Regions from separate parts of the Homo sapiens genome. Here all the other regions are linked to region 1. The links come from fine-mapping of genetic effects on gene expression. A gene starts in region 1. Each other region holds a variant in brackets. All regions are shown on one strand. Distances are from middle to middle. Region 1 holds the start of SLC22A16 (solute carrier family 22 member 16). Region 2 has its middle 20 kb from the start of SLC22A16. Region 3 has its middle 32 kb from the start of SLC22A16.

Region 1 (4,239 bases):
ATGGGAACTCAGGTAATGATAATAGCCATGACTTATTGAGAACTTACTGAATAATAAGACTTTTGCATACATTATGGTGGCCAGCTAAGAGCTGTCTCCTCAAACCCATTTGCCCCCTCTTCACCGTAGTGAGCTGTCACCATGGGTGCGCAGCTGCTCCAGGCACAGACAGGGAGCCCCATGCAGTGGATGACAGAGCTGTCCCACCTGCCAGGGTCCTTGAATGGTCTCGTGGCACAGATCCTGCTGTGGGCAGTTACTGGAGAGGCATAAACTTCCATTTGAGGAATCTGTTTGATTGGGCACTTTAGTCAAACACCAACTAATATAATTACCTCAGCTAATCCCTAAAAAACACAGGGGAACTAAGATGTAAGTACCACCTACCTCATTGAGTTACTGTAAGGATGAGAAACTGCATGCAGAGTCCTCATATACACATTTTCACTACTCCTATTTGAAAACATTTGTACTATTATTAGCCCCATTTTACAGATAAGAAAGTGGTAAATAAAATGCTCAAGACCGTATAGTTAATGTGTGGTAGCGCCAGAGTGGGAACTTAGACATCCAGCCTTAAAACTGATCTTTTAACCTCTGTGCTATTCTGCTTCCAGAAGGATGAAATGAGATCATACATAAAGAGCTTGGCCCAGCTGAGGAGCCGTCACCTAACCGTGCTCAGGAGTGCATCATGGTTGAGAGTGTGGGCTGTGGAGGTGATGGGCATCCAATGGCATCCAATTCTGCCCTGCTAGTATTAGATTTGTGCTTAGGCAGAAACCTTGGTTTTCTCATCTGTGAAAAGAGGGTGATACTACCAACCTTATAAGGCTGTAGTGAAGATTAAAGGAAGTAACATGTACCAACGGCTTATGACCGAGCCAGGCACAAGGCAGCGTTCAATGATGCAAGCAGAGGAAGAAGGGAACAGCTGGGGCTTCCTGCCCGTTTCCTCTGTCCTAACAGCTCCTTTTTGCAGACACTGGGAATCAAAACCAAAACGCATGCAACCTTCCACCTTGAAGAACAGCACCACATCATCTCTTTGCTAAGCCTGATTCCCGTTTTCTGGATAGGAAACTGACACACAAAGTATCTCCAGAATCATATCAGAGGTAAGTAGCAGGCCAGGATCGAGACGCAGCTCCAAATCTCCGGCCATAACGCTGCATGGCCCCTCACCCGGCTACCTCCCCTCTCAAAACACTCTGAGTCAGATAGAGGAGCTCTGTCCATGAGTGAACGAACGAATGAATAATTTAAATTTTTTAAATCAATTTGACAAATGAAAAGAGGGTGTACGGAGGTTAAACGTGGTTCCACCATGCGTTGGCTATGAGTCCTTGACCCCGCCAGCTTGTTTCCCAATCACTAAAATAAGGATTTGAACACCTCCTTTGCAGGGTCCCGGTGAACATCAAATGAAGAACTATGTGTAAGCGCCAGGTACAGTGTACCTGGCACGTATTAGGTTTTAATAAACGGCAACCAACTCTGACTAACGGTTGTCCCTGGGGAACACCTGCCAGGCACAGAGGGAGGCCCTACGGAGGCGCAGGGCAGAACTGGGCAGCAGCCGTCTAGGGAAGTGGCGGCGGATTAGAGAAACGGGCGGCCAGGCACAGGCACCCCCTACGAGTGAGATCTGGCCCCTCGAGCCAGATCTCCAGCCAGATGCCTCCAGCATCTGCTGCCGCGGAGAGCACGCACCAGGTCCCTCCTGCCCGGCAACAGGCGCACTCCGAGCGAGCCCAGCGCCTCTGCTCACCATGCCAGGTCCCGCTGCCAGAGGCCTAGAGGAGAAGCCCAGCTAGGGGCCGGCGTCTGGACGCCCGTGTCCCGACTGCGCGGGGTGAGGAGGAAGTGGAGATGTTTTCGGATCGCGAGCGCCGCGCGAGAACCCCGCCGCAACGGAAAGAAACAGACCCCTCGGCGCCGCCTCCCGCGTGGCGCCGCGGGGCCCCTCCCCCATACCTGCCGAAGTGCCCCACGTGGTCATAAATCCCCTCGAAGTGGCGGGACCCCATGGTGCGGCCGTGCACTGGGCGCCGAGTTAGCCGAGCTCCGGGGACTGCGGGTAGCGCGCCCCGCCCCGAACCTCCCCGCCCGGCCTCCTGCTCTCCCCGCGCGTCCCAGTGCTCGGGACCAGCGCGAGGCTGTATTCTGTTCCTCCCTCCGTCGCTTGGCCCCTCGGTCCCCCCAAGTATCTTCGGCTTTTTTCCTGCCGCCTCGGCCTCCTTCCCGGCGCGCTGTGGTCCCGGCGCCCGCGGTCGCATGGTGCCCTCGCCCCCAGCGCCGCCGCTCTCCCACCCGCCCCGCCGCCCACCCTGGCTCTTGGCACCATGTCTGCGGGGTCGCCACGCTCGAGGGAAGCCCCGACGCCTGGGAAAAGTTGTCGCTGAGAGAGAGCCCAGGGTGGGAATGCAAGGGCTAGGCTCGGTCCGGGGGCCGCAAGAATATATAGCCTTCAGCATGACGCCCCTCAGAAACATGGCTCTCAAACTTTAATGCCTAAGAATCTACTGCAGAACTTGGTTTAAAAGGTACATTTAAGGCCGGGCGCACTTGCTCACGCCTGTAATCCCAGCACTTTGGGAGGCCGAGGCGGGCGGATCACCTGAGGTCGGGAGTTCAAGACTAGCCTGACCAACATGGAGAAACCCCGTCTCCACTAAAAATACAAAATTAGCCGGGCGTGGTGGCACATGCCTGTAATCCCAGCTACTCGGGAGGCTGAGGCAGAAGAATCGCTTGAACCCTGGAGACGGAGGTTGCGGTGAGCCAAGATCGTGCCATTGCACTCCAGCCTGAGGAACAAGAGTGAAACTCCGTCTCAAAAAAATAAAAGTACAATTAGGCCGGCGTGGTGGCTCAGGCCTATAATCCCAGTGCTTTGGGAGGCCGAGGCAGGAGGATTGCTGGAGCCAAGGAGTTTGAGACCAGCCTGGGCAACGTATAGCGACACCTCGTCTATACAAAAATAAAAAATAAATAAATGTACATTTATTTTGAGACTCCATCCCTGATGATTCAGGATGCCTGGGGAACAGGAATCTGATTTTTTTTTTTTTTTTTTTTTTTTTTTTTTTTTTTTTTTTTGAGACGGAGTCTCGCTCTGTCGCCCAGGCTGGAGTGCAGTGGTGCAATCTCGGCTCACTGCAAGCTCCACCTCCCGGGTTCAAACCATTCTCCTGCCTCAGCCTCCCAAGTAGCGGGGAGGTGCCCGCCACCACGTCCGGCTAATATTTTGTATTTTTAGTAGAGACGGGGTTTCACCGTGTTAGCCAGGATGATTTCGATTTCCTGACGTCGTGATCCGACCGCCTTGGCCTCCCGAAATCTGATTTTTAATAAGCAGACCATGGCATTCCAAGCCACACTTTGGAGTGGGCAGGGGTTTGGCCCATAGCCAACCCAGGCAGGGGGTGACCTTCCTTCTGGAAGGTATCAAGTGAATGAACTTTAGGGAAGAAAGGTCAATTGCTGGTCCACAGCGCTGAAGCAGAAAAGCCAGTTTCCGACTATATCCACAGTGAGAGTTGCCTTCTCTAGTCAGCCTGGCAGTCACTGGCCCCACTGTTGGCGTGCTATTCCACTCTATAAGGCCACTAAACCTTGAGTTCCTAGAGAACAGGGATGCATTCTCTTCGTCACTTTGGTAGCCTCAGTTCCATAGCAAATGCCCTCTCTCTGAACTTCTCCACCTCATCCTTAAAATCTGAGCACACCTATCGCTTTCTCAGAGAAGTCCAACAGTTTGAGGGCCAGGGCAGAGCTCTACCAGAGCAGAGCATCAAGAGTGGGTCTGATGGCTCCGAGAAGCGGCAGGATCTTGCAAGGCTGTGTTGAACATTTTACTTTGACCAAAGGACAAGGAGAACTCCCTGTAGACAGTCTTAAAGCAGAAGAGTAACAGGCGCAAACTTGTACTTGAATAATATTTGAAAGAGAGGAGAGTCCATTTCCCAAAGTGCTTCCCTCCCCTACTTGTCACAGAGCCTACAATAACACCATTAAAAATTGACTTATTTTTGTTATGCACAATCCTATCTAGACATTCTCTTCTGAAACATAAATACTCTTGGAAGGACTAATCCCTTAAGTAATAAACAACTTGGAGAGGGTTTTTAAATTAGATAGTTTCCTGCTAACTAAAGAGACTTAAGAAAGCCTAAGTTCTTCAGGTGAGGAATGCTAGAGGGATACAAGGTGGGGGGAAGATGAGAGGGTAGTGAG
Region 2 (4,239 bases), 20 kb after region 1:
ATGTGTATTCATCAGAGCTAAGTAGTGGAAACAGAAACCCCTCTAAGTATTTCAAGCAGAGAGGGATATAAGTAAGATAATTATATGCTTTCAACATTGTTGGAAGAGCTGGAGGAGAAGTCAGGGGTCATAACATGAGTACTGGTTTCAAGGTCACACCACCAGAGTTTCAACCCAGAGATCAGGAAGCTGCTGGGCAGCTGCTGTTACCGCCATGGCAGCACCACCACTGCACCACTGCCTCACTCCCGCTTATGAGGAAGATTGAACTGGGAACACTGCACAATTCCAAAAGGAACAATGCAGCCTATGTCATTGGTCATCTCACCCTGTGTCCTCTAAGAAAAGACAAAGTAAGGAATGAAGCGTGGGTCATCTAAGGAACAAAGCTAACCCTGGTTCTTGCCTCGCTGGAACACCTGCACTGCTCTTATGATGGCCTTTCTTAAAAGGACGTTTATTTTCTGACTCCCATTTCCCTCCACCTCTCTTCCATCCTGCTGCTTCCAATTCTCTTTAGCTTCTTTAAGCAACTACAAGTGGCCAGTTGCTATCAAAGACTAGGAGAAGGTTTAAAGGAGGGATATTCATAAGATTTGGTCCTTCATTTAATAAGTACGTGTGTTACCTGCATCTTCTCTGCGTGCAGGGGCAAAAATGAGTTTAAGATGTAATCCTTTATGTAAAAACATACATACATGGCACCAGACACTGTGCTAAGCCCTTAGCATTCATTATCCCATTTACTTCTCTCAGATCTCTAAGATCAACACTGCTGTCATCCTCATATTCAGATAAGAAAAATGAGACTCAGAGAGAATGGGTAGTCTTTTTAATGTCACCCAAGCTCTAGAGTTGCAGAGACAGATTCAAACCCAGCCCTGTCTTACCCCAAAGCCACTGCCCATTCCATGACAGTGGCATTTCTTGTTATCGAAAAGTGTGGTGTTTTGCCGAGATGCCATCAAAATAACTAGAACCTAAATCTGGTAACTTCAAACTGTCAGTTCCCCACTCTCCCTAAGAAATGCCTACAAGTTCCTGTGCCATCAGCGCTCAAAGGCAGCCGACTGGCCTGGGGGTCAAATCAAAAGCCTTAAGACTCCAGGGAGGAAGTACTTGCTTCTGAGTATGGTAGACTTCCAGAAAGACTCAACATTTGATCCAAGATTGGAAAGATAAGTAAACATTGCCAGGCAGAGGTGGGGCAAAGAGCATGTTCCAGGTAAAGATGCAGATGTGGGAAAACCCAGGACCTGTTTGAGGGGCGTGTGGAACACGCTGGAAACAGCAGCAGATGAGGAGAGGACAAGTGTGTGGCGCTTAGCCTAGTGCCCGGCACATAGGAAGTACCGGGTACATTTTCCTGGAAGGCCTTGGAACTCATCGTTAAGAGAGCAGCCTCGGAGTCAGAGGCCTGGCTGTAAATTCTGTCTCTACCACTTAAAAACTGTGAGGCCTTGGGCACTGGCTTATCTCTCAGGTGTCACTTCCCCATCAAAATGGTGAACTAACAGTCTTGCCTCATGGTGGTCATGAGGATCAAATGACATAGGCCCTCTTAAGTGCTCTCTCTGGCGTCCTAATTAGGGAAAGGGAGTCAGGCTGGTGGGAGCAAGGGAAAGCAAAAAGAAGAAGCAGATAAGCTACAAGTCTGCCTTTCTATATGCTCCAGGACACACAGCCCTCCTACACAAATAACTCACAATCTTCCTACACCGAGCTATCACCAGACCTTCAGCTGATACGAAAAAATGCAAGTTAGCTCCCTGCAACCTTGGCGTTAATCAGTACTGAATGAGACACTCTGCAGCCTCAGAACCAACCTATAAAACCTCCAGCAAGCCTTTGTTTCTTTGCAGTCAGCGCCTCTTCTGCTGAGCCTGCCCGTTGCTTCCTGGAAAGGTATTTTCATACTTTCTCTAATGAATCTGCCTTTTTCTACCTACAACTGCCTTGGTAAATTTTTTTTTTTTTTTTTTTGAGACGGAGTTTCACTCTTGTTGTCCAGGCTGGAGTGCAATGGCGCAACCTCAGCTCAGAGCAACCTCCGCCTCCCGGCTTGAAGCGATTCTACTGCCTCAGCCTCCCGAGTAGCTGTGATTACAGGCATGCGCCACCATGCCTGGCTAATTTTGAATTTTTAAAGAAGCAGGGTTTCTCCACGTTGGTCAGGCTGGTCGCCAACTCCTGACCTCGGGTGATCCGCCCGCCTCAGCCTCCCAAACTGCTGGGATTACAGGCGTAAGCCACCGCACCCGGCCTGTCTTGGTAAATTCTTTTATCTCCCCGCCACCTGTCCAGATAGTCGTCGCTCGCCTCCGACACTTTCTTCATGGCTTCAGCTGCAAGTAACAGCAAACCCAACTCAAACAGGCCGAAGAAAACAAGGGACGTTTTTGACTCACTCTGGGAAAAGTCCAGAGGTGGAACAAGCCCCACGTGCCATGGGATCCAGAGAGACAGTGTCATCAGGTCTCCCTTTCTCTCTCATTCTCCATCACTTCTCCTCTCTGCTTCTCTGTGTAGATTTCAAACCCAGAAGAGAGAAGCCCCCTCTCCACCACACCTACACATCACATTTCAGAAAGCTAAGGATGGGGCCGGGCGCGGTGGCTCA[A/C]GCCTGTTATCCCAGCACTTTGAGACGCTGAGGCAAGAAGATCACCTGAGGTTAGGAGTTCGAGGCCAGCCTGACCAACATGGCGAAACCCTGTCTCCACTAAAAATACAAAAATTAACCAGGCGTGGTGGCACTTGCCTGTAATCTCAGCTACTCTGGAGGCTGGGACAGGAGACCAGCTTGAACCCAGGAAGCAGAGGTTTCAGTGAGCCAAGATAGTACCACTGCACTCCAGCCTGGGCGATAGAGCAAGACTCCATCTCAAAAAAAAAAAAAAAAAAAAAAGAAAGAAAGCTGAGAGTGGCGGTGGGGCGGCAGAGAGTAGAATGCTCGGATTGGCTGGCCTGTGGCCAGGCTGTGAAAAGCTCTCATTGGCTGGCCCATGGCCAGGCTGTGAAGGGTTCTGATTGGCTGGCCTGTAGCCAGGCCGTGAAATGCTCTGACTGGCTGGCCTGCATCATATGCTCATCTCTCATCAATAGCAGCGCAACACTTCAGAGACTGGGAGAGGAAGTGGGGGAGAAAGCACATTCCTGGAAAGGGATTTTAGATGGACAAATTAACATTTAGATGCTTTTAACAGAGTACCTGGCTTGTGATAAGTCAATAAAGTTGGGGCCACAAGGAGGAGGGGAGCCTTGAATTCTAGGCCAAGACTACTGAGCTTTAGTTAATGGACAGTGGGGAGCTTACTGAAGTTTTTGTCCAGAGTGGTGCTGTCAGAAGATTGGTCTGATAATGGGGTGTAGCAGAGAGTGGAGGAGGGTGGAGAAGCTGATGGCAGAAAGATTCTCTGGGAGCCTAGTATTCACCATCCAGGTTAAAGAGATGATAGTAGATACAGAATAAAGGGCTTCACTCAATGATGGAGAAGAATGACAGGCTATGGGAACCTACTCCCTGGGGTCAGCAAATAAACGTGAGGAGGGGAGAGGAGGTTACAAGCCTGAGTATCTGACAGGATGGTGGTCTGACCTTTCCAGCTTCTCTCTTTCCTCCTCCCTCTTTTCCGCCTTTCCCTCCCTCCCCACTCTCTTTCAAAATGATGCATGTTTCCCTCTTATCCTGGACAGCACAGTCTTTCTCTGATGTATTTCACGTGCACACCTGCTGAGGGCTCTACCTGGAGCAGTTTTGAAAGGATTGGTTCCTAAACAAATGCAGTGAATTAAGAAAGGTTCCAGTGAATGAAATGTTTTCCCTCTTAGCATAAAAAAAAGAAACAAACAGGGGATCTGTAGAATGTGCAAAAGACCTGGAATACCTACTATCAGTCTCTTTCAAAGAACATGAAATGGATAAAATTTTGGCCTAGGAACCTTGAGTGTTATAACATGTTGATGTTAGAAATGCAAAGAATGTAGCAGAAGATGGGTTCTGCCAGCATCAGTAGAGAGGTGAAAGGTGTGTGTGCATCTGTGTGTGTGTGTGTGTGTGTGTGTTTACAGGTCTGTGAGTGAGCTGAAGAATAACAACTAACACCTTCGAGATAGCTAGCTGCTTCCCACAGTGACACTGACCAAAGTTATCAAAAAAATAAGGAGCAGGTCTGAGGAAGGCAACAGAGAAATTTTTCGAGCTCTGCTTCCAAAGTGTATTTCTTAAGGGGCTGGGGTGTG
Region 3 (4,239 bases), 32 kb after region 1:
ATAAGTTACCCAGTCTGTGGCATTTTGTCATAACAGCTCAAATGGATTAAGATAGCTGGTGATCATGGAACTCTTGAATCTTGGCTTCCTTATCTGACAAGTAAGAAAAATAGTCTCCCCTGTCCTTCCTGCCCTTCCCAGGTTTTCCATGGGATGCAAGTGAGATAAGGGATTTGAAAAATCATTTAGCCAGAACAGAGCTCTGAAGGAAGGAAATCTGAGGACACACTGGTCCAGCTCACTCGTTTTACAGATGACAAAACCGAGAGAATGCGTGTGGTGGCACATGCCTATAGTCTTATCTACTTGGAAGGCTGAAATGGGAAGATCCCTTGAGTCCAGAAGTTCAAATCCAACCTGGGTAACATAGTAAGACCCTGTCTTTGAAGAAAAAAACAAAGATCCTCAGATCATGTGTGTGTGTGTGTGTGTGTGTGTGTGTGTGTGTGTGTGTAGAGACAAGGTCTCCCTATGTTGCACAGACTGGTCTCAAACTGCCGACCTCAAGTGATCCTCCCACCTTGGCCTCCCAAAATGCTGAAATTATAGGCATCAGCCACTGAGCCCACCCCTCAGGTGCTTTGTTTTTTAAATCAAAATTTATTATCCCTTTGTAAACCAAAAAAAAAAAAAAATTCCAAGACCCCCCAGCCACTTGAATGGACTTCCTACTCAGCCAGGGCTCTTTTAAAATTTACCCTGAGAGATTGTTTCAGGCCATGATGGGAAGTAGTGGTTGGACATGGCTCATTATACCTCTCCAGCATTAACATCAACACAGACTTTAAGTCACATAAGAAACATTTTACAACCTATTCTCTCTGAAGCCGACTACCTGCAGGCTTCCTCTGCCAATAAGAAATTTGGCCTCCACAACCTGTTATCTTAATCCAAACATTATTTTCTATTGATCCCAGGTCTTTAGATAAACTCAACCAACTGCCAACCAGAAAATTTTAAAATCTACTTATAAGCTGGAAACCCCTGCTTCAAGTTGTCCTACCTTTCAGGACCAAACCAATGTATTTCTTTTTTTTTTTTTTTTTTTTTTTTGAGACAGAGTCTCACGTTGTTGCCCAGGCTGGAGTGTGCAGTGGCGCAATCTCGGCTCACTGCAACCTCCACCTCCTGGGTTCAAGCGATTGTTGTGCTTCAGCCTGAGGAGCCAGGATTACAGGCACACACCACCACACCCAGCTAATTTTTGTATTTTTAGTAGAGAGGGTTTCACCATTTGGCCAGGCTGGCCTCGAACTCCTGACCTCAGGTAATCCACCCACCTCAGCCTCCCAAAGTTCTGGGATTACAGGCATGAACCACAGCACCTGGCCTCCAATGTATTTCTTAAATGAATTTGATTGAAGTCTCATGTCTCCTTAAAATATATAAAACCAAGCTGCAGCCTAATCATCTCAGGCACATGTTCTCAGGACCTCCTGAGGGCTCCTTCATAGGCTATGGTCACTCAAAGTTGGCTCAAAATAAATCTCTTAAAATATTTTACAGAATTTGACTCTTCATCAACCACTTGTCCCATTTCTGTAGGAGCCTGCTGTTAGAATCTGACCTGCAAGTAGGAATCTGATAAATTCATTTTTTCAGGAGTTAATAATAGTTGTTGACAGTGTAAGAGTGATATGGACAGGAGACAGAGAAATACTGGGTAGAAGAGGGTGGTTCCCCAGCAAAGGCCCCATCCTCAAGCCTGGATACTCATGGCCCTAAATGGGAACAGGCATTCCTGTTTTCATGCCCCAAAAGTTGTCTTTTGACCCCCCTATCCTGTACCCATATAAACCACAGACCTCAGGTTCCAGAAGCAGATGAGCAGACAAGGAGATGAGAAGATGAACAGAAGAGCAGAAGAACAGCAGAATGATGTGGCAGAGAAGAGAAAGAGCATCTAAACTCCAAGGGAAGATCATCTTCCCACACCATCTCCCTTCTAGCTCCCCATCCATCCCACTGAGATCCACCTCTACCACCCGATAAA[A/G]CCCCCACATTCACTACCCTTCAAGTCCATGTGTGACCTGATTCTTCTGGGATGTTAGACAGGAGCTTGGGATACAGTAAGCTGTCACACTGGCCCTCTGCCCTTGCAAAAAGGCAGAGGATCCACTGAGCTGGTTAACACTTACACCATCTGTGGACATCAAAGCTAAAAGAGTGCACTGTAACACATGCCATGCCCACTTGGGTTTTGGGAGTCACAGGCACCCACTCCAGATGCTGCTATGGGGCTGGAGCCTCAAAGCACTCGCCCCAGCTCCTGTGCCTGCCCTGCTGTGTGCTCCCACTCCTGTTAGGGGTTTGAGTGTGTGGTGACCAAACACATGAGCCATACCCCTGTTGCATGTCCTTTAAGGGTGGTCAGGGAACTCTCCCATTTCAAGAGCACTTCTCCTAGAAATATTTGCAATTTACTTAAGAGATACTACACAGTAGTGGGATTTCTTCTAAGTTTTCTTTCATATTTCTTTGAGCAGATTAATAGATGAGTACTTTTGGATGGGACAGTTTCCAAGTCTTTCTCAATTTGCATGATATACATGGTTGCCTCTCTATATACCATATCTTGCATTGAATATTGGAGAAAAATTGCATTAATGTGTGAGGAAATATCATTGACCTCCCACAAGTGGCCCCCATGCCCCTAAATCTAAAGGATTCCCCTTTAGATATTGAAAACTAGAATACTCAGACATTCTGAAGTCATGAAAGCAGTAAACATCTTCAAAGAGATGAGAAAGTAATCACAGCATATTGGAAAAAACCTTCAAACAGAAGTAAGGAAACCTGAGGTCCATCTCTGACCATGGCAAATTATGTGAACTTGGGTAACTCAGTCTTTCTGAGCATCCCCCCAACTCTCAGTATTACTCAGTATTAATACTTCTGTGTTTGTGTGTGTGTGTGTGTGTGTTTGTATACATAGGTCAAAATTCAAAAGGTACTGTTGTCAGAGGCATTCAAACCAGAGCAACTCCATCTCAAATAAAGGCTGGTTAAAATAAGGCTGAGACCTACTGGGCTGCATTCCCAGGAGGTTAGTCATTCTTAGTCACAGGATGAGATAGAAGGTCTGCACAAGGTACAGGTCATAAAGACCTTGCTGAAAAAATAATGTGGTAAAGCCAACTACATCCCACCAAAACCAAGATGGTGATGAAAGTGACCTCTAGTTGTCCTCACTGCTCATTATACACTAATTATAATGTATTAGCAAGCTAAAAGACACTCCCACTAGTGCCATAACAGTTTATAAATGCCATAGCAACATGAGGAAGTTGCCCTATATGGTCCAAAATGGGGAAGAACCCTCAGTTCCAGGAATTGCCACTCCTTTCCCCGGAAAACTCATGAATAATTCATTCCTTGTTTATCATATAATCAAGAAATAACCATAAAAATGGGCAACCAGCAGCCCCAAGGGTTGTTCTGCCTATGGAGTAGCCATTCTTTTATTCCTTTACTTTCTTAATAAACTTACTTTTACTTCACTGTATGGATTCACCTTGAATTCTTTCTTTCATGAGATTCAAGAACCCTCCCTTTGGGTGTAGATCAGGACCCCTTTTCCTTAACACTGTGGTAAAATATAATAGAAAATATATACTGAGTCTTTGTCCCTGGTTCATGACACAGAGCTCCTAAAACACTTGGAGTTTTCCTCTGTGATAGGGAAAATTGGAGCATCTTTTACTGTTCATAACAAGCCCCTTTCAACTGTACCTGAGTTTATGCTAATAAAGTGACTCCTGGAGGACCTCTGGATAGCTTGAGGATAGGGGCCCTTCTCCTGAAAGACCAAGTCTTGATTAGATGATTGGAACCTTCACTCTCCAACCTCTAGAAAGGGAAAAGGGGCTGGAAATTGAATCGGATCACCATTGGCCAGTGATTTAATCAATCATGCCTATGTAAGAAACTCCATAAAAACCCCTTAACAACAGGGTTTGGAGAGCTCCTGGGCTGGTGAACACATCCAACCCACGCTGGGAGGGTGGCTGGCTCCAACTCCACAGGACAGAAGCCTCTGCTCTTGGGACCCTGCTGGGTCCTACCCTCTGTACCTCTTCCTCTGGCTGTTCACTTGTGTCCTTTATAAAAAACTGGTAAACATAAGTAAAATGATTTCTTGAGTTCTGGGGGACATTCTAGCAAAATACTCAAAATGAGGAGGGATTCATGGGAATCACCAATCTATAGCTAGTCAGAAGTATGGGGCCAGGCGCAGTG

What was found. PIP is the estimated chance that this variant, and not a neighbour inherited with it, causes the effect. A credible set is the group of variants that fine-mapping cannot tell apart.
Region 2: its variant is the best candidate, but not a certain one, in a credible set for the expression of SLC22A16 in whole blood (INTERVAL, PIP 0.87).
Region 3: its variant is the best candidate, but not a certain one, in a credible set for the expression of SLC22A16 in whole blood (INTERVAL, PIP 0.57).

Annotation. Positions count from the first base shown.
Region 1 is chr6:110,474,545-110,478,783 of GRCh38, forward strand. It overlaps SLC22A16 (solute carrier family 22 member 16), which reads right to left and starts at 2,069. Exons shown (of 8, transcript NM_033125.4): 1 at 1,978-2,069. The coding sequence starts at 2,030. It overlaps LOC105377938 (a long non-coding RNA gene), which reads left to right and starts at 973. Exons shown (of 2, transcript XR_942860.3): 1 at 973-1,118.
Region 2 is chr6:110,494,538-110,498,776 of GRCh38, forward strand. No RefSeq gene overlaps it. Among named protein-coding and RNA genes, the nearest start is that of SLC22A16, 20 kb to the left of the region's middle. The variant A/C (reference allele first, on the strand shown) is at 2,621.
Region 3 is chr6:110,506,857-110,511,095 of GRCh38, forward strand. No RefSeq gene overlaps it. Among named protein-coding and RNA genes, the nearest start is that of SLC22A16, 32 kb to the left of the region's middle. The variant A/G (reference allele first, on the strand shown) is at 1,994.